3 separate regions of the Homo sapiens genome follow, and all the other regions are reported to be linked to region 3. Evidence: microRNA targets listed by miRTarBase, many of them from high-throughput screens and not tested one by one. Region 3 holds a microRNA gene; each other region holds the end of a gene's coding sequence.
What was found. The annotated mature microRNA hsa-miR-877-3p reads UCCUCUUCUCCCUCCUCCCAG and lies in region 3 at 2,081-2,101, shown strand. An mRNA with a match to its seed (bases 2 to 7 or 8) in the 3' UTR can be bound and repressed. Matches are read on the target gene's strand: a 7mer-m8 pairs with bases 2 to 8, a 7mer-A1 pairs with bases 2 to 7 and ends in A, and an 8mer does both.

Region 1 (7,121 bases), not on the chromosome of region 3:
AGCTGGAAGCAGCTCTTTTGTGAGAAATTTATTTGTCCTTTCTGACTTTGGCTCATCTCTTGGCATAGGCCTGAGGCCTTCTCTGAAGTGGCTGAGAAACACAACAACAGGAACAGGTGAGGAACAAGCCTTGGGGTGGGGTACATGGAAAATAAGGGGTTCATGCTTTGGTGCCTTGAGGGAAAAATAGAGCCTTCTTTCCTCCTTACATAGGGTATCTGTTGAGAGCTCCTAAGCATGTGGTATAACATGGTTATGAATGGGGTTTGAAGGTCAGATGCTCTGGGTTAAAATCTTGGCTTTGCCACTTAAAGCTGAATGACTTTAAGCACGTTATTTAATTCCTTCAAACTCTATTTTCTTATATGTAAAATGGGAGCTTTGTGAGGATTAAAGAAGTGGATGGCTTGTAAAATTGCTTAGTGCAGTATCTGTTATGTGATATGGGTCCATTAAGTGTTAGTTGGTGGTCGTAGAATCATTATTTCTAACTAAAACAAATGGCTGTGGCACACGTTTGGGGAGTGGGGTCAGTCTTTAGCCTGTTTCTTTGGCCACGTTTCCCCACTGTTTGCTCTCCTGTGTCCCTTGTTTGAGTCTTTAAAGGGTGCTGTAGGGCCCTGACTGCTGGGCCGGATGGTCCTTTTTTTGGAACTCCTTGATTGTAGATATTATTTTCCCAGAAGGCGCTGGGCTAACCCTGCTCTCTTCCCTTCGTGCAGACAAACTCAACCAGAACTCCCAGCTGAGCCACAGTTATCAGGAGAGGAGTCCAGCTCAGAAGATGATTCTGACCTGTTTGTTAACACAAACCGCAGACAGTATCATGAGAGTGAGGAGGAGAGTGAAGAGGAGGAGGCAGCCTGAGACTCCAGGACCCAATTCTCCACTTGCTCAGGGACTGGCCCCTGGCTCTTCTGGGCTTGGACATTCCCAGGGTGCTCTGCACATCTTCACCCCTGCATGAGGACAAAGCAGGGCTCCTCTCTGAACTGATCTTTTGATTCAGAGAATTAAACCCCTGGTGGGTTGGTGACTTGTTCTGGTGTCTGAGTGGCTCTCTCGGGGGAGGGAGATTGTGATGAAGTGAAAAACTGCTCCCTATTTATTAGAGACCTTGTGGGTGGGTGGGCTGAATGGGGAGGAAATGGGAAATGGCTGGAGTCTTTCCCAGGTGGTTTGTTCTTTCTTATTGGGCACTTAGAAAGTGCCAGGCCGTGCTCTGGGCCTTCTTGCATGTGTTTAACAGCTGGGAGCACTCCTGCTTCCTTGCCTGCTTGCAGTTCATACCAATTTAAGCATTCAGGATGACAGCCCTAGGACCTAACACCCACCTGCCTCTAAGAGACGCTCAGGAGCCCATGGTGCCTCGTGCTGTTCTCCCCGCCTTTCTAGTCACCCTGTGTACGGGAGTGCTCACCTCCAGCTACTGTGTCCATCCCCACATACGACCTCATCTCTCCCACTCTGCACCATCTATCACTTCCAGAAGGTGGCTGGCAAATCTCTCTATCCTTAACTTTGTTTTGAATGGTCCATCCATCTCCTGACTTTATTTGAAACCTGATTATTCCCTGAGGACATTGATTGTCTTATAACCTTTTAAATAGAGGCTGCTTTTCCACCCTCACCCTTCATTCTTCTAACCAGCCCTGACATTCTCATGAGTAACCTTCTGCCTTCACTTCCCTCTTGTGTAGCATCAATTCCGTAGTCCACCCTACACCCCTCTGTCTCCCTCCATTCTGTTCCGCTAGTAAAACCCTAACCCTGGGTAAACCCAATCATTCACCTCTGTGCCCAAACCCAAGTCACCATCATTAGGTGAGAAAACAGCCAGCCTGGCCACCAGTTGTACCTTACGTTTATCATTACAAACCTCAGATGGACACTAAGCACTGCCCAGCAGATCTACTCTGGGATGTCTGTTTCAAAACTTCTGTCTTATCTATCAATTCCCCCTTGTGGTAGTTACCACAACACATGCCTCATTAAGAAACAGCAACCATCAGAGGGAATGCCTGCCTCCCTGTTACCAGCTCTGCAGATGTGCACATATCTTCCTGTCGTAAGCCAATGGGACTTAAACCTTACCTCTTGTGTTTTGGAGACTATCTTTTTTTTTTTTTTTTTTTTTTTGAGAGAGTGTCTCCCTGTGTTGCTCAGGCTGGAGTGCAGTGGTGTGATCTCGGCTCACTGTAACCTTCACCTACTGGGTTCAAGTAACTCTCCTGCCTCAGCCTCCCGAGTAGCTTGGACTACAGGCGTGCACCACCACACCTGGCTAACTTTTTGTATTTTTAGTAGAGACGGGGTTTTGCCATGTTGCCCGGGCTGGTCTCGAACTCCTGACCTTAAATGAGCCTCCTGCCTCAGCCTCCCAAACTGCTGGGATTACAGGCGTGTGCCACCATGCCTGGCTAATTTTTATATTTTCAGTAGAGACGAGGTTTTGCCATGTTGGCCAGGCTGGTCTCGAACTCCTGACCTCAAGTGGTCCACCCACCTTGGCCTCCTAGAGTGCTGGGATTACAGGTGTGAGCCACTGTGCCCGGCCTCTTTTGCTTTCTTAAAGACTTTGGTCGGGTATTTGTGTTGTTGAGTATTGTGTCTGGGTGTGGGTATTTGATTCTTTTTTTGTTTTGTGTTTTTGGCTGTCCTGTCTATTGGATGTGATATGTTATGGATGTGATGTGTTAGTGTCGAGCGTGCTGTAGAATCTCCCATTTCTGAAACAGGCGTGAAAACCTGTACTGATTCCCACGTCCTCCAGCTACCACTTCATTTGTCTGTTTCTCATTTACTTTCTCTTATAGCGTGGCTTTAAACATATATACATTTGTATATATGTATATATGAATATAATGTATAAAATGTATGTAGATGTATATACAAAAAATAAACGAGATGGGTTAAAGATATGTATGTGTGTGTATCTATCTTTAATTCATCTGAAGTTTGTTTTTTCTGAGAGGTAGCAAACTTTCCCTAAAGGGAAAGTCACTTGTCCCTGTACTATTTCTTGAAAGGTTCATTCTTTGCTCACTGGAAATATTTCTTTTTTTTTTTTTTTGAGACGGAGTCTCGCTCTGTTGCCCAGGCTGGAGTGCAGTGGCGCCATCTCGGCTCACTGCAAGCTCTGCCTCCCGGGTTCACGCCATTCTCCTGCCTCAGCCTCCTGAGTAGCTGGGACTACAGGCACCCACCACCACGCCCGGCTAATTTTTTGTATTTTTAGTAGAGATGGGGTTTCACCGTTGTTAGCCAGGATGGTCTCAGTCTCCTGACCTCGTGATCTGCCTGCCTTGGTCTCCCAAAGTGCTGGGATTACAGGCATGAGCCACCACGCCTGGCCAGAAATATCTTTTAAAACATAAATTCCTGCATATATATGGATCTTTTTTGGAATTTCTAATCTGTCCTATTGATCCGTGTGCCCATACTGCATTTTTTTTTTTTTTGAGACAGTCTTGCTTTGTCACCCAGGCTGGAGTGCAGTGGCGTGATCTCAGCTCGCTGTAACCTCCGCCTCCCAGGTTCAAGCGATTCTCCTGCCTCAGCCTCTCCATAGCTGGGACTACAGACACTTGCCACTACACCCGGCTAATTTTTGTATTTTTAGTAGAGACGGAGTTTCAACTTTTATTTTTTTGAGACAGGGTTTCACTCCTGTCACCCAGGCTGGAACACAGTGATGCAATCATGGCTCATTGCAGCCTCCACCTCCTGGGCTCAAGCGATCCTTCTACCTCAGCCTACTGCGTAGCTGGGACCACAGGTGTGCACCACCACATCGGGCTAATTTTTCTTTTTCTATTTTTTTTTTTTTTTTTTTTTGTAGAGCCAGTCTTATTATGTTGCCCAGGCTGGTCTCAAACTCCTGGGCAAGCCATCCTCCCGCCTCAGCCTCCCAGAGGGCTGGGATTCCAGGCGTGAGCCACTATGTCCACCCAAGAAGTGGTATCTTAACAGTTTATTTTTAGTTTTGTTTAAATAAATATTGTAGAAAAATTAACAGTTTTTCATCTTCCTGTCCAGAAATGAGGTATGTTCTTTGGTAAGGTGGTGTGGTCTTCAAATGGGCCTTTACTTCCAATTTGGTTTAGTCTTAGGAGTTTTATGAAAGTCCTAGTTACTGGTAGTGAAGGATCTGTGGAAATCACCTTTCCCCATCCCTGGCATCCACCTGTGTGTCCATCTTTGTGTTGCCCACCTTGTCGAATGCGCAGTTCTTCAGTTGATCTTGTGGCTTTATAGATAGCCAAATCGTATCCCACTAATGACAGTTTTATCTCCTCCTTTACACTCATGTCTATTTCTTGTGAATCTCAGAGGCCAGGACCTCCACCGTGGTTGCATGGCACCCTTGATTGATGTTTTCTCAGTGGGAATGGTTCTCACGTTGCGTCCTGAGGTAGGACGCTTGCTCTGGGCTTCCGGTAGATGATCTTCATTAGACTGAAGATGTTTTCTTTGTTCCATCTTACTGTTTTTTTTTTCTCCTTCGCTTTTGTTTAACAGTGATGAATGTTGACATCTATGGAGAAAATCAAAAGATTTTATTGTATGATTGTACTGAGTTACAGTAATAGGTTTCCTAATGTTGGACACACCTTACTTTCTGATATAAACCTTGCTTAGTTTTACAGTATATTATGTATTTACTTAGGAGTTTTATCTCTCTCCCTGGGCCAATCCCCTCCCTCTTTTTAAAAAATGACCTTCCTGTTCTATTTCGAGATTAGCTTTATGCTAGCCTTGCAAATGGGTTTGGAGACGTCTTTTTCTTCAGGCTTGAATACTTTATAGGCCAGGCATTTGTTTCTTCAACGTTGTGAACTTGTTTACAAAAACATCTGTGCTGGGTACCTTTTTCAGGGGTGGATCTTTCACTGCCTTTTAGTTTATTCAGTTGTGTTCTGTCTAAAGTTTTCTATCCTTGAGTCAATTTTGATCATTTGTATCATTCCAGGATCATATTTCATATATATTTAAGCTTTTTGGGCAAAAGTTCATGCATAATATTTGTATTATTTGGAACTTTCTTTTTTTGTTTGTTTGTTTTTGTTTTGTTTTTGAGGCAGAGTTTCACTGTGTCGCCCAGGCTTGAGTGCAGTGGTGCAGTATCGGCTCACTGTAACCTCCACCTCCCGGGTTCAAGTGATTCTCCTGCCTCAGCCTCCCAAGTAGCTGGAATTACAGGCACCCGCCACCACACCCAGCTAATTTTTGTATTTTTAGTAGAGATGGGGTTTTGCCATGTTGACCAGGCTGGTCTCAAAGTCCTGACCTCAGGTGATTGGCCCCCCTCAGCCTCACAAAGTGCTGGGATTACAAGGGTGAGCCACTGCACCCAGTAATTTTTTTTTTTTTTTTGAGACAGCCTCTCACTCTGTTGCCCAGGCCATCATGGCGCCACTGCAGCCTTGACCTCCCAGGCCCAAGTGATTCTCCCACCTCAGCCTCCTGAGTAGCTGGAACCACATGTGCGCGCCACCACACCTGGCTAATTTTTTTTATTTTTAGTAGAGACAGGCTCTCCCTATGTTGCCCAGGCTAGTCTCGAACTCCCAGGCTCAAGTGATGCTCCTGCCCTGGCCTCTCAAAGTACTGGGATTACAGGTGAGAGCCACCATCCTGGCGTATGCGGGACTTTCTTATAAATGACAAAATTGAACTCAAATTAGGAGAAGTAAGCAAGGCTCATTGACCTGAGGTCTCTGAGTGGTGCGCATCGGGCAGGGATGAACCAATGCCAGCAGCATGAATTCCTCAGGCTCTCTCATTTATCTCTGTCATCTCTGCTCCCGGCTGATTAATTTCTTTCCCTCCTACAGATGTTTTCTGTAGAAAGCTCAAGTTTTTTTTTTTTTTTTTTTTTTGAGACGGAGTCTCGCTGTTGCCCAGGCTGGAGTGCAATGGCGCGATCTCGGCTCACTGCAGGCTCCGCCCCCCGGGGTTCACGCCATTCTCTTGCCTCAGCCTCCTGAGTAGCTGGGACTACAGGCGCCCGCCACCACGCCCGGCTAATTTTTTGTATTTTTAGTAGAGACAGGGTTTCACCGTGTTAGCCAGGATGGTCTCGATCTCCTGACCTCGTGATCCGCCTGCGTCGGCCTCCCAGAGTGCTGGGATTACAGGCATGAGCCACTGCGCCCAGCCAGGACGCTCAAGTTTATACACAGTCCTTGTAGACAGAGCCCCTTGGGGCTCTTGAGGATCCCTGTATTTCCGTGAAGGGCGATTGATCTTCCTCAGGTCACTTGCTGTGCTTGAGCAGTCACTGTGGCCAGGGCCGGGGGGTGGGAGGGTGTGGAGGACTGGGGTGGGGCAGGATGAGCCACAAGTAATTTTTATATGTTTCCCATGGAATAGAGAGGTTCTATTACCAGAAAAAGTGGGGCAAGGGGTGAGGGCAGGTGAAATCAACAAAATATGTTTATATTTTGTGTATTTTATTTGGCTAGCTTTGCAAGAGGTCTTCCTTACTGGACTTTTCCTTCGTTTCTTTGGGTTTATTTGCTCATTCTGGGTTCTTGAGATGTGTGCTTAGCTAATTTAATTTCAATTTGTTTTCTAATATATTCAGGGCTATATGTTTTCTTCTAAATAGTCCTTTGACTGTTCCCCACTTTGTGTGTGTGTGTTTTGGCGTTTTATCTGTAAACTTGGTCTTATGTTCTTCTCCATTCTCTCAGTGATACTGTGATCCACCTAGTAACATCTTTTTTTCCCCCTAAAACCTTTTCGTTTCCACTTCTTCATCTCTTACCAGCCATTCAGCTTCTGTGGGCTGTAGCTAAGGGTACTGATGGAGGTAGGGTCCTTGTATTCTGCATGCTACTTTCCTATGTCATTCTCTGAAGCTGGATTCCACCTCTGTTCTTCCAACTGAATGGTGGGATCCAACCATGTATGAATAGATCTCCCTGAGTGAGCTGAGATCTGATGTAAGAGCCCCTTGTCCCGATGTCATGGCCAGTCCCTGTGACTGGCTGCCTAATAGTACTTACTGGCTTCTCTTGCAGTTATGCTTGAGACTTTGTGGCCCTTCAGAATCTGTACCTCTGTCACTTCAGGACTAACCTCTACAGCCAGGTCATTTCCACCAGGGCTTCCCC
Region 2 (7,121 bases), not on the chromosome of region 3:
CTTTACCCCTCGAAACAGGGCTGCAGGCAAAGTTTTTAGTTTGTGACCAGTTCATGAAGAACTTTAATTTGGGAGAAGTTATATTTAAAATTTGCATCTAATATGCAAGATAAATACTTCACTATAAATTTCAAGTTTGCAAAATCACAAATTGTTTTAGGTGTCAGGGTGCATGGTACACTAACTGGCTTAAACCCAGCAGTCATGTGTAGAGCAGTTTATCCTACAAAATAGCTGAATAGTGATTAAAGAGTATGTGCAAAACAACAACAACAAAACCACAAAAAACACCAAGTGGTATCAGCTGGAACCTCTGAGCAGGTCTATGAACTAAACAAGTTCTTCTTATTTAAGCCATGTTTTCGGCCAGGGGCGGTGGCTCATGCCTGTAATCCCAGCACTTTGGGAGGCCGAGGTGAGCGAATCACCTGAGGTCAGGAATTCGAGACCAGCCTCAACGTGGAGAAACCCCGTCTCTACTAAAATACAAAAAAAATTTCGCTGGGCGTGTTGGTGCATGCCTGTAATCCCAGCTACTCGGGAGGCGGAGGCAGGAGAATTGCTTGAACCTGGGAGGCGGAGGTTGCGGTGAGCCAAGATGGCGCCATTGCACTCCAGCCTGGGCAACAAGAGCGAAACTGTCTCAAAAAAAAAAAAAAAAAAAAAAAGCCATGTTTTCATTTTAAGCCACTCATGGTTTCATCCTTGGATTCCCCATTAATTAAAAAAAAATCTCAACTATGAAACACAAAGTTTCATTATTGTTTTGATGTTAAAATAAAGCAGGCTGAACTCTCTAATCCCCAAAGAATAGAAGCACTTAGACTATAGAAAGGGAAACAAGTGTAAAGGTCTGAAATTATTTAAGAGGTTTATAGGATAATTCAAAGCAAAAATTTAGTAGCATAATGAAAGAAAAATGTGATAAAAAGACAAAGACGAACGTTCCAATTAATTTATTTAAATTCATTAATGTTGCAAAAAATATGATGTGCAACAAATCAAGACACAAGTTATATTCCTAACAGGTCAAAGAAAATATTACATCTCCTTAGTAAATCATGACCAACTCTGGTATTTCTTACAGGGACCACATTAATATCTTGCACACACAGACATCAGAACTGAATTTCTGACAGTACTCGGCTGGGCAACATCATCTTAAGAGTAGGAAAATATCACAGTACATTAATTTTGTCTAAATGACAGCAATGAACCTGTGGTAACAAAAGTATTTTTGGAATAGATATCAAAGTGTGTTAATGTCTTAACAAACTCTGAATTGTGTTCTGTGTGAATAGTGCTCCAAGGGCTGTGCAAGTCAGTGGCCCTGAACATCATCAATATTTACTAGCTAGGTTTACACAAATAAACAAGCAACTGTTAAACGGACATTAAACTTTACAAAGTCCACATACAAAAAGTGCAGTGTAGAAGCTGATGAATGTTATTTTCCAAGTTCCTCCTTAGCCAAACTGCATAAAAATTTCAAAATGCAAATATTTTAACTTCTTGTTAAACATGATTCTAAGACATCCTACAAGCCTAGTATCATTAATTTGAAAGCACGAAATGATTTTCATTTGGTGCTTACGTGCTTTATGTGAATTTTTCATAGCATTTTACTTAGTTCTCAAAACATAAATAGGTCTATTATAAATAGTTGCAACATACTGTTATATTCAAATTTTAGTGTCACTCCTTACTGTTAAACATGCCAGACTACTTTATTTTCAATTATCCTTTAGAACTTCAAAGGAAAGTTACATAACTGGGTCTCACCATTGATCTGATTCTAAGTTCATTCAGAATTTCAAGAAGGGCAGAGGGGGATGCTTGCCAGGTAATTCTTTTGTATTAGCTTAGAACATTTGAGTAGATAATACCCCACTTCCCTCACCAGTTGGCCTTCCCATTCAAGTCTAAGTTCTTGACTCTTTCTCGCAGCAACTCAAACTACACAATTCCTATGACCTATAACAAGACCAGACCTATTTTAACAGCAAAATAGGTCTAACTTGTGAGTACATACATTAATGCCTCTTTTTACTCTATCCCTCTCAGATTTGTGGTCCATTTCTCAAATGTCCATATAGGATTGGAGAAAAAACAGGCATGAAAACAAAATAGAATGGTGTAGCAATCTCTATTTTCAGCCTATCTCCTACTCCCATTTGCTTGAGCAAGTTTAACACTTCTCCACATATAACATGGAAAAAGGAAGGATGAACCTACCGTAACATCTCTACCAATCTCATCAGGAAACTGGCCTGTTCTATCTGATATGTCCTAATGCTAATTTATCACTTGAAGAAATATAAAAAGCCACTTCTGTATAAAACACATGTCCAAATTCCCTGAGCATTCACATAAACAGCCAAATAGAAATGTTATATAGTCTTTTTAAAAGGCCTCTATCAAAAAGCAGATCTCTTACCTTTTTAAATTCTGGAATTACGGTTAAAAAAATTCTAGCTACAGATATATGCTTGCCAATCAGCATATTTCAGTATTCAGTGCACTTACTAGTGATGTCCATTTTGGAAGACTAAATCAATGTTCAGCAACAGTGAAATATGAAAAAACAAAAAAACCAACCAAAAACCCTCAATCCTAAACTTTTAAGTGCTGTAACTGCTAACCTTCTCTGCTCGAACTTGCTTCTGTATGAAGAGACAAAGAAAGAGAAAATATGAATTCTTATCATGGGTATGTATTATCAACTTTTCCCCCTTCAATCCACAGTCTTTATTCACATACCTTGCGTATAGCCTGCAGGTTTTCCTGCTGCATACAAGAAATGTTACCATCAGCAGTCACATATGGTACTTCCCTTAAAAGGACACACATGGCCGGGCGTGGTGGCTCAAGCCTGTAATCCAAGCATTTGGGAGGCTGAGACAGGCAGATCATGAGGTCAGGAGTTCGAGACCAGCCTAGCATGGCGAAACCCCGTCTCTACTAAAAATACAAAAATTAGCCGGGCATTGTGGCGTGTGCCTGTAATCCCAGCTACTCAGGAGGCTGAGGCAGGAGAAATGCTTGAACCCGGGAGGCAGAGGTTGCAGTGAGCCAGGATTGCGCCACTGCACTCCAGAATGGGTGACAGAGTGAGTCTCTGTCTCCAAAAAAAAAAAAAAAAAAAGAGAGGGCACACATACAGTGGCATCTTAGGTAACAACTATGTCTTTATCTCTTTATAAAGGTTTGCTTTCTCTTACTTCCTACTTTTATCACTTTCCAATGCCTCTGCTAGACCCTACTTAGAATCATATTTCTTCATATCTCCCTCTGAGTTAAAGATTGTTAAGCTTAAATTGTGGGGTGAATAGAACGTCTTCCCTTGGTGCTTGCTTAGGAGTATGATCAAGCAGAACACAGAATCAAATTATTTCACATGAAAAACTTCTGACTAAAAAAGGGGCACTTAGAGCCTAGTGACAGAAGCATCAAATTAAGCCAGTTAAATTAGATCCATGATCCCAACAGAAAGATAAAAGTACAATCACATATACTTTCACCTTGGTCAGTAATGGGAAATTAAAATGGAATAATATGGGAAATGTTAACTTAGCTATAGATTAGAAACAACAGACTTAATAAATGCTCTTCCTCTAACCTACTATTATGATCTTAAATCTTATAAAACATTTATTGTGGGTACATCTCTATACCAGATTCCATTAAGGTGCAGGTTAAAGCAGGTATCCCTTTAGTTTACTGATTCACAGCACCTCATTTTCATTATATCCCAGGTGTTATCACTGTTGTCTCTGAATTTTAATGTTTAACAGAATAGTCTTCTACTTTTAAAAAAAATTCAGAAAAACATCACTTTTGCAACATGTATCTACAGTTAGGAGCAATGACTGCAAAATCAAAAATCAAAATAATGCAAAAAAGAGTTGAAGTTATTCTTCATATTTTTTAAACTGAAGAACCAAGTACTTAATGTGGTAGAAAACCACCTATTAAAAACCTCAGCCCATTTTGAGCAAGATAAAGATGTACAGATGAAAGACTACGTTAAATCGTCTACAAATATAGAATCTAATGACAAATTCAATATAATTGTTTATACATAATCCTTATATGGTAAATTCAGAAGGAATGCCTAACTTGTTATTGTTAGTTTGCTTCTTCAACAACAAGTGTTCCTAAAATGTGAGCAAGCAATAATCGTTTTGGCTCAATTCACTGTAATGACATTAGTTCAGGATCTGCCAAGAGCTGCTGGATCTGAGTTAAGTCAGGAGGCTGCTGAGGAATGTTTCATCCTGGGAATCCTCCAGCATCTCTCTCCTATAACTGGTTTTAAGTTAGCATGCCAAGTTTAGGACTGAGGAGGACAAAAAATATAGGAAAGTTCCCTTTTGTAACAGAAGGTTTGTAAGTACATGAGAATGGTCACAGCCACATGTGTGTTCAATCTAGGATAGACTAAATCTTGAAAGGTTAGCTCACATCCACTTCAATTTTGCTACTCTAGGCCACTGTTTTGTAAAATACCTTACAGGAAGGGTTGAAGAGTAGCCATGACCTTCAAATTTGGAAGGTATTATGCTTACCAGCTGTGTATGAGCCTTTCAAGTATATGACACAATATCAGATCAATCTGTTGTTTTAGAAATAATTTTGTCGGTAATTAAACTTTTTGTTTGGAGGCACAAACACAATTTATTTCAATGTAAAGGTACTACCAAATGAAACAGTTTAAATGCTTGTAACAAACGTGTTATCCAAAACAGCACAATATGATGATGCTAAGACTTACAAAATTAACCTAATTTACAGTATTGTCAAACATGATTTCATACAAACTTGAATAAACACCACATCTAACTAGGTCAAACAACTACCGAGTTCAAATAATTGATATGGAAGTATTTTGGTAAAGTGCCCATAGTGAGAGTTTAAAAAGCAGCCCCTGTTTTCTATAGAAAAAGTTGTGACAGTGAATAACTCATCACATTCTCTGCAATACTACTCAGCACTCATATACACTCAGGGGAGCAATACCCTGGACACATAGCTTATTTCACATTAGTGAACAAACTCAAGATTTTTATAAAGTTCTGACTTTGGGCCAGAAGATAAAATGTCCCATATATACATATATACAAACCCTAATTCCTACCCTCTTAAATCCTCTAGTTCTAAGAATGGCTTTTTGACTTGTCTTTAAGTTTAGAAAGGAAAAAGTGTGCAATGCGCTTGCATCTGTACTTGCTGAATTATGAAACAAATATGTTAAATGAGAAAAAAACCTTGGGATGGTACTAATACACTTCGATTATATACATGATCTTTGGGTATTCATGACAATCAGTTTAACCATCTGTTGCCTTATGAAAAACTTAATTTCCTAAGTTACCCAGGAAATGTATTTAACCATTTACAAAAACAAAAATTCTAATATGCACTTTAGAAAATCGTGGTCTTATATACCTGCATATTTCTTCCATAAGACAGGTACACATTAAAAAATATTGCTCAATGACATAAAAATATATATTATTTCTTTCCTTTGCCATTTATGCATATAAATATTTCACCGAAGAAGATGCATCATTCAATAAACAAATGCAAAAACTACTTTATATAAAGTGTGGTTCTCTATTTAGCAATATAAAATATAAAACGATAATAATACAGTTAGCTATTAAAGAGCTAAATTCAAGAAATTTGCAAACCAGTACAGCAGTGAACAGTCCCTTGTATAATACAAAAGTCCATTATGAAAAAGTCAAGTCTATTTTGTAACAGGTTACATAAAAATATGGGCCAATAAATGCATTATGAATGCAGAAACAGCACTGCTCCATCAGCACATTCTTCAGTCTTGTTTGGACTAGATGCCAAACTTACTGTTCATTTTTCGGTTCATCTTGTTTTCCATTAAGTTCTTGATCAACTCTGTTTAATGAAGAATATATAAAATAAGAAACCAGCAACTGAACAATTTTCTTTCTAAAAATAATGACTATTTTAGCATAGAATATTACTCTGTTAAAGACAAAGCTTTGCAAAGAAGCAGACATAGTAAAAACAGTTACCAAACATCATTTCCCCAACCAGAAAAGAGAATTTTTAAAGGCAGGAGGACACTGGCAAGAAATGTGACCGTTGTTTCTTTAAAGATTATAAAATACTTTACATACAAATGCATATAAACTTTTTTTTTTTCTTATTTTTGAGACGGAGTCTTGCTCTGTCACCCAGGCTGGAGTGCAGTGGCACAATCTCAGCTCGCTGCAATCTCCGCCTCCTGGGTTCACACCATTGTCCTGCCTCAGCCTCCCGAGTTGCTGGGACTACAGGCGCCCGCCACCATGCCCGGCTAATTTTTCGTATTTTTAGTAGAGGTGGGGTTTCACCATGTTAGCCAGGATGGTCTCGATCTCCTGACCTCGTGATCTGCCTGCCTCAGCCTCCCAAAGTGCTGGGATTACAGGCGTGAGCCACCGTGCCCAGCCATAAACTTTCTTAAAAGTTCAAATTACATGGCATATTAAAATCTTGACCTGTAACTTGGCTGTGGTAGGGATCCAGGTGGTACGAAAATGGCAGGAAAAACAACTCCCTCAAAAATGATTCTGTTAACTAAAATATGAAAATGCCATGAAGGCCACCAATTATCAATCAATATTTTAAAATTCAGTGATAAAAAATGCATCCTTATAGAACCCATAATTATTCTCCAAAACTTATTGGTACACAGTTTGTGAATGCCTTAAATTTGTTTTGACAGTAAGAAGCCTTAAGAATTTAACATTCAAGGCCGGATGCCGTGGCTCACGCCTGTAATCCCAGCACTTTGGGAGGCCTAGGCGGGTGGATCACGAGGTCAGGAGTTCGAGACCAGCCTGGCCAACACAGTGAAACCCCATCTCTACTAAAAATACAAAAATTAGCCAGGTGTGGTGGTACGCGTCTGTAGTCCCAGCTACTTGGGAGGCTGAGGTAGGAGAACCGCTTGAACCCAGGAGGCAGAGCTTGCAGTGAGCTGAGACCATGCCATTGCACTCCAGACTGGGTGACAGAGTGAGACTCCGTCTTAAAAAAATAAATAAAATAAAAAAAAAGAATTTAACATTCAAAAATATCTAATATAAATTAAT
Region 3 (7,121 bases):
AAGTGCTGGGATTACAGGCGTGAGCCACCGCGCCCAGCCAGGAGTCCCTAGTTTTGACCATCCCCGGGTTCTCACAGGGTTCAGAGGAAGAAGGAGAAGGGGAAGAAGAGGAGGAGGAAGGAGGAGAGTCTAAGGCAGATGATCCCTATGCTCATCTTAGCAAAAAGGAGAAGAAAAAGCTGAAAAAACAGGTAAGACCTTGGTTCTTAGCGGTCAAAAGTAGGGGATTTTTAAATACTTCAACTAGGGGACATGCGATTGGGGACACGAAGGAAAGGTTTGGGGGCTACTCCAAGTAAAACAATCGGAGTAAGAAAATAATTGTGTTCTGTGAACCTTATCTCAATGTCTGATGACATGGGCTGTTTCACTTTGGGGTTTTTTGTTTATTTTTTGAGACAGGGTCTCACACTGTTACTCAGGCTGGAGTGCAATGACGTGATCTCTGTTCACTGCAGCCTCAACCTACCAGGCTCAAGTGATCCTCCCACCTCAGCCTCCCGAATAGCTGAGACTATGGGTGGCACCACCATGCCTGGCTAATTTTTGTATTTTTTGTAGAGACAGTATTTTAGCATGTTGGCCAGGCTGGTCTCAAACTCCTGAGCTCAAGAGATCCACCTACCTCAGCCTCCCAGAGTGCTGGGATTACAGGCGTGAGCCAGCATGCCCAGCCAGCATGGGCTGTTTCATGGTGATGGGAAACTGGTAGACTGTGGCTTCAAATGTAGTTTTTCCTACCTTCTCAGATGGAGTATGAGCGCCAAGTGGCTTCATTAAAAGCAGCCAATGCAGCTGAAAATGACTTCTCCGTGTCCCAGGCGGAGATGTCCTCCCGCCAAGCCATGTTAGAAAATGCATCTGACATCAAGGTAAGGTCTCAAGGGGCCCCTTCCAGTCCACTTACCTAGGGAAGAGCCAGTTCTCTCATCTTCCCTGAGTGGCTGTGGTGTGTGAATGGGTTAGTTCAGTGGGAAGAAAGATTGGAGGCATTTTCCACACCTTAGGTTCTGCCAACTTGAGCAAGAAGATAGAAAAACCAGTAGAAGTGGGGTCCACCCTTGGCAGAAAATAGTGTGGGACAGACTAGACTAGCTGAGGATGCATGGGGCTCCCATTACAGGCAGCGAACAGGGCGGGGACCGGCTGTGGGGAGAGGAAGGGGATTATGCTGGAGGTAGCGGTTTGTCAGAGGCTTCCCTGCAGGGAGAAAGTGGCCGCTCCTGTCCCAAAGGGAGAATTTTCATGTGATCATCCCTTCCCTCTGCCACCTCTTTCCTGATGGCTGCAGCTGGAGAAGTTCAGCATCTCCGCTCATGGCAAGGAGCTGTTCGTCAATGCAGACCTGTACATTGTAGCCGGCCGCCGCTACGGGCTGGTAGGACCCAATGGGTGAGAAGAGGAGGGAGCTGGAGGCAAAAAAGGGCCTGGAGGGAAAAGAAGAGATTTCTCAGTGGTGGCCAGGTCCTAATAGCTTTTATTCCCCAGCAAGGGCAAGACCACACTCCTCAAGCACATTGCCAACCGAGCCCTGAGCATCCCTCCCAACATTGATGTGTTGCTGTGTGAGCAGGGTGAGACCACTGGGGAGAAAAGGGGCTTGGTGGGGTGGGCAGTTGGGTAGAAAAGCCAGCCAGCCAAGAATAGAAGAAATTGTGGCTATGGAGTTGGAAGGGATGTGGAGGGAGACTGGAGACCGGGAAAGGGATGCTAAGGAAAGGAGGGGAGGGTCAATGAGGAACTTGAGAGTGTTTTATTTGGAACAAGTACAAAGAGCTGGGCAGGGTCAGGCAAAACAGAAATGTAATTGAAGGGAAAGAAAGATGAGACTCTTGGCTCTTGAGGCTGCCTGACTGTTCTCCCTCTGCCTCCCAGAGGTGGTAGCAGATGAGACACCAGCAGTCCAGGCTGTTCTTCGAGCTGACACCAAGCGATTGAAGCTGCTGGAAGAGGAGCGGCGGCTTCAGGGACAGCTGGAACAAGGGGATGACACAGCTGCTGAGAGGCTAGAGAAGGTAGAGGAGATGGCGCAGGGGACACGGGCAAAGACTTGGGGGTTCCTGGGACCCTCAGACGTGTGTCCTCTTCTCCCTCCTCCCAGGTGTATGAGGAATTGCGGGCCACTGGGGCGGCAGCTGCAGAGGCCAAAGCACGGCGGATCCTGGCTGGCCTGGGCTTTGACCCTGAAATGCAGAATCGACCCACACAGAAGTTCTCAGGGGGCTGGCGCATGCGTGTCTCCCTGGCCAGGTGGGCCATTCACCTCACTGCCCTCCCTTCCAGCCTCAGACCACCGGGGCCCTTTTCCTCTTTCCCTTCTCATTCTTCCAAGGCCAATAGGGAGGCTCAAGGCTTACCTCTCCCTCCTTACTATCTGTGTTGTGAGAACTTAGGGTCTTTCTCTATTTATCTCCCTACTTGGTGGTGAGTTCTCATCAACATACCCTGCAGCTGGGTGCAATGGGTCACGCCTGTAATCCCAGCACTTTGGAAGGCAGAGGCAGGAGGATTATCTTCAACCCAGGAGTTTGAGACCAGCCTGGGCAATATAGTGAGACTCTATCTTCACAAAAGGGGGAAGAAAACATATCCTAGCCTGGGCAACATAGGGAGACCCTGTCTCTACAAAAAATTTAAAGATCAGCTGGATATGGTGGCGCACGCTGTGGTCACAGCTACTCTGGAGGCTGAAGTAGAAGTATCACTTAGACCTGGGAGATTTAGACTACAGTGAGCCCTTATTGTGCCACTGCACGACAGCCTGGGCAACAGGGCGAGACCCTGTCTCAAAAAAATTAAACCGTATCCTGCCCGAGAACTTCTCTGAGGAGAGCTTGGGAAGGAGTGTTCATGGTCTCAGGCTCTATCTCCGAGTTTTCTCTGGGGTTGTCTGAGCAAGGATCTTTCTCTCCCTGACCCTGCCCTCTGCTACCCACCCTCTAGGGCACTGTTCATGGAGCCCACACTGCTGATGCTGGATGAGCCCACCAACCACCTGGACCTCAACGCTGTCATCTGGCTTAATAAGTGCGTTACGGCCTTTGCATCATTGGTTCCCATTCTGCACTTTCTTCCCCTTCCCTCCCTGCCCTGTTTTCCTTTAGCCCTTCTCCACTGTGCCTGTGAGTGGAGCTCTATTCAGACCCCCCTTTCCCTCCCAGCCCCCGTTGTCTGCCTGCTTCCTCTGAATTCTCTCTCACTTGACCACTGTGACACTTACACCCTGTTCTCTGAAACCCAGCTACCTCCAGGGCTGGCGGAAGACCTTGCTGATCGTCTCCCATGACCAGGGCTTCTTGGATGATGTCTGCACTGATATCATCCACCTCGATGCCCAGCGGCTCCACTACTATAGGGGCAATTACAGTAAGTAGGATTGTGTGTGGATGCAGGGAAGAGATAGAACCTCGAAAAGAGGCCTGAGTGGGAGGGCCTATTTAGATAAACTGAATCCTGTCAGAATTCCAGACAGTGATGCCTACCCCATCACCACCAGTCCCTGGTTGTCCCTTTGCTGGGAAGAGGAGCAACCACTGATGCCTGGTCCCCTCTTCTGCCCCAGTGACCTTCAAAAAGATGTACCAGCAGAAGCAGAAAGAACTGCTGAAACAGTATGAGAAGCAAGAGAAAAAGCTGAAGGAGCTGAAGGCAGGCGGGAAGTCCACCAAGCAGGCGGTGAGCACCTGAGGGACTTCTGGGCTGGGGGCCACTGTTCTCTCCTGGCAGTGGAGGAAGAAGGAGACTCTGGAACGCTGGCCTACATTTCAAGGACTGCCGCGCAGGGCTCAGGTTTCTCTTTTTTCCTCTTCCTCTCCAGGAAAAACAAACGAAGGAAGCCCTGACTCGGAAGCAGCAGAAATGCCGACGGAAAAACCAAGATGAGGAATCCCAGGAGGCCCCTGAGCTCCTGAAGCGCCCTAAGGAGTACACTGTGCGCTTCACTTTTCCAGACCCCCCACCACTCAGCCCTCCAGTGCTGGGTCTGCATGGTGAGTGCCGCGGGCCTCTGCTGCTCCACAGGAAGCACCGGAAGCATGTATGTGCACCCTAAATTCTCCACCAAGGCTGAGATTGCTCCTGTTCTCCAAGGCCAGCACATGAGAGGGACTTTGCAGGGACTGAAAAGAATATAAATTGCTTCTTTTCGTGGCTTTCAGGTGTGACATTCGGCTACCAGGGACAGAAACCACTCTTTAAGAACTTGGATTTTGGCATCGACATGGATTCAAGGAGTGAGTTGGCGGGGTTGCCTCAGGGATGTGTAGCAGGAGCCACAGGGAGAGTCTCTGGGGACCTCTTTGACCACCTGTCTTCCATCTTGCAGTTTGCATTGTGGGCCCTAATGGTGTGGGGAAGAGTACGCTACTCCTGCTGCTGACTGGCAAGCTGACACCGGTGAGTCCTGGAGCCAAGGAGGGAGAGCATGAGAAATGTGAAGACACAGCTGCTTTTGCCAGAAGCTGGAATCAGGGAGCCTCTCGAGAATGTAGAGTTAAATACAGAACTCATGATAGATGATTCATTTCCCTAAGAGGGGCAGTAGAGGAGGAAAGAGCTTAGATCAGTTCAGGGGGGAGAGCTAAGAGAATTAAGATAGAACTAGGGGGCACACCCACGTGTTTTGGTTATACAAGAAATATATGTCTTTTATAGAACGATTAAAAATTGCATAAACGGGCCAGGCACAGTAGCTCACTCCTATAATCCCAGCAGGGATCACCTAAGGTCAAGAGTTCCAGACCAGCCTAGCCAACATAGTGAACCCCGCCTCTACTAAAAATACAAAAATTAGCCGTGTGCGGTGGCGCGCACCTATATCCTAGCTACTCAGGAGGCTGAGGCAGAATTGCTGGAACCTGGGAGGCGGGGGTTGCAGTGAGCTGAGATTGCACCATTGCACTCCAGCCTGGGCAACAGAGCGAGACTCCATCTCAAAAAAAAAAAAAAAAATTGGCCTGGCGTGGTGGCCCACGCCTATAATCCCAACTCTTTGGGGGAGGCTGAGGCAGGCAGATCACTTGAGCTTAGGAGTTAAAAACCAGCCTGAGCCCAGTGTGGTGGCTCACACCTGTAATCCCAACACTTTGGGAAGCCGAGGTGGGAGATCACCTGAGGTCAGGAGTTTGAGACCAACATGAAGAAACCCCATCTCTACTAAAAATACAAAATTAGCCAGACGTGGTTGCACATGCCTGTAATCCCAGCTATTTTGGGAGGCTGAGGCAGGAGAATCACTTGAACCCAGGAGGCAGAGGTTGCAGTGAGCTGAGATTGCGCTATTGCACTCCAGCCTGGGCAACAAGAGCAAAACTCCGTCTAAAAAAAAAAAACAGACCAGCCTGAGCAACATGGTGAAATCCCATCTCTACTAAAAATACAAAAATTAGCTGGGTATGTTGGTGCACGACTGTAGTCCCAGCTACTCGGGAGGCTGAGGTAGGAGAATTGCTTGAGTCCAGGGGGCAGAGGTTCCAGTTAGCCGAGGTCGTGCCACTGCACTCCAGTCTAAGTGACAGAGTGAGGCTCTGTCAAAAAAAAAAAAAAAATGCTTAAGTCAAGAGAAAAATCTGGAGATAACCAGTTTTTTTTTTTTGTTATTTTGTTTTGAGACGGAGTCTCACTGTCGCCCAGCCTGGAGTGCAGTGGTGCGATCTTGGCCCACTGCAACCTCCACCTCCCAGGTTCAAGATATTCTCCTGCCTCAGCCTCCTGAATAGCTGGGATTATAGGTACGCCCCACCATGCCCAGCTACTTTTTGTATTTTTAGTAGAGACAGGGTTTCACCATGTTGGTCAGGCTGGTCTCGAACTCCTGACCTTGTGATCCGCCCGCCTCAGCCTCCCAAAGTGCTGGGATTACAGGCGTGAGCCACCGCTCCCAGCTGAGATAACCAGTATTAATGTTTTAGTGGATATCTTTCTCCTTTTTTCTTTGCAAATGTGCATATAATTTTTAACAAAAATGGGCTGTCATATGAGTTGTTGTGTAGCTAGATTTTTCCAAATATATCAAGCATTTTTCCATGCAATTACTTATTTCATATGAGTCTACCTTTTTTTTTTGAGACAGAGTCTCACTCTGTCACCCAGGCTGGAGTGCAGTGGCACAGTCTTGGCTCACTGCAACCTCCGTCTCCTGGGTTCACGCGATTCTCCTGCCTTAGCCTCCCGAGTAGCTGGGACAACAGGCGCGTGCTACCACGCCCAGCTAATTTTTTGTATTTTTAGTAGAGATGGTTTCACCGTGTTAGCCAGGATGGTCTTGATCTCCTGACCTCATGATCTGCCTGCGTCGGCCTCCCAGAGTGCTGGGATTACAGGTGTGAGCCACCACGCCCGGCAAACTCTACCATTTTATTTGAACTTTTGTAATATATTGCCATCTAGTGTGTTAGAAAGTTTGTAGCCATTTCTGCTCTCTCTAGCAGTGTTGAGAGGCCATTTTCTCATATCCAGAGATTAGATCTTTAGAAAGGTATTATTAGATTCTCCCCAAAACACTAAACTTGCCACATGAGGCCCTTACGATGTACCATTCGTGAGTCTCGCTGTATGGAGAGCAGGTGTTCTTTGGCTGTGGTTAGTCCCTCCTGCTTGTCCCTCTTGTCCTCCATTTTGCTTAACTCCCCTTTTGTCCCTTAACTCTTTTACTTTGCTCACCATGCCTTTGTCATATTAGGGGAACATCCCTGTTCCTTTTCTTTTTTGAGACAAAGTCTTCCCCTGTCCCCGAGGGTGGAGTGCAGTGGTGCGATCTCAGCAACTTCCACCTCCTGGGTTAAAACCATTCTTGTGCCTCAGCCTCCTGAGTAGCTGGGATTATAGGCATGTCCCACTATGCCCAGCTAATTATTGTATTTTTAGTAGAGACAGGGTTTCACAATGTTGGCCAGCCTGGTCTCAAACTCCTGACCTTAAGTGCCTCCTGACCTGCCTTCCTTGGCCTCCCAAAGTGCTGAGATTACAGGCATGAGCCACCGTGCCCAGCCCCTATTCCTTTTCTTATGCATACTTGTCCCTGGCCCATTTCTGGTGTTTGTCTCTCCTTCAGAAAAGTTGGTGTATGGACGAGGTCAGGAGATCGAGACCATCCTGGCTAACATGGTGAAATCCCGTCTCTA

Region 1: the mRNA of EIF1AD is a reported target of hsa-miR-877-3p. The part of its 3' UTR that is shown has no 7-base or 8-base seed match.
Region 2: miRTarBase lists BNIP2 as a target of hsa-miR-877-3p. The part of its 3' UTR that is shown has no 7-base or 8-base seed match.

What each region holds. Positions count from the first base shown.
Region 1 is chr11:65,992,345-65,999,465 of GRCh38, reverse strand. It overlaps EIF1AD (eukaryotic translation initiation factor 1A domain containing), which reads left to right. Exons shown (of 6, transcript NM_001242481.2): 5 at 69-116; 6 at 723-2,921. The coding sequence ends at 867. Among named protein-coding and RNA genes, the nearest start is that of EIF1AD, 6.3 kb to the left of the region's middle.
Region 2 is chr15:59,658,205-59,665,325 of GRCh38, forward strand. It overlaps BNIP2 (BCL2 interacting protein 2), which reads right to left. Exons shown (of 10, transcript NM_004330.4): 10 at 942-5,916. The coding sequence ends at 5,865. Among named protein-coding and RNA genes, the nearest start is that of GTF2A2, 4.2 kb to the left of the region's middle.
Region 3 is chr6:30,582,317-30,589,437 of GRCh38, forward strand. MIR877 (microRNA 877) reads left to right here and starts at 2,016; the gene lies at 2,016-2,101. ABCF1 (ATP binding cassette subfamily F member 1) reads left to right here. Exons shown (of 25, transcript NM_001025091.2): 9 at 78-191; 10 at 750-872; 11 at 1,292-1,392; 12 at 1,489-1,574; 13 at 1,876-2,015; 14 at 2,102-2,250; 15 at 2,944-3,027; 16 at 3,242-3,366; 17 at 3,563-3,675; 18 at 3,818-3,989; 19 at 4,158-4,232; 20 at 4,325-4,395.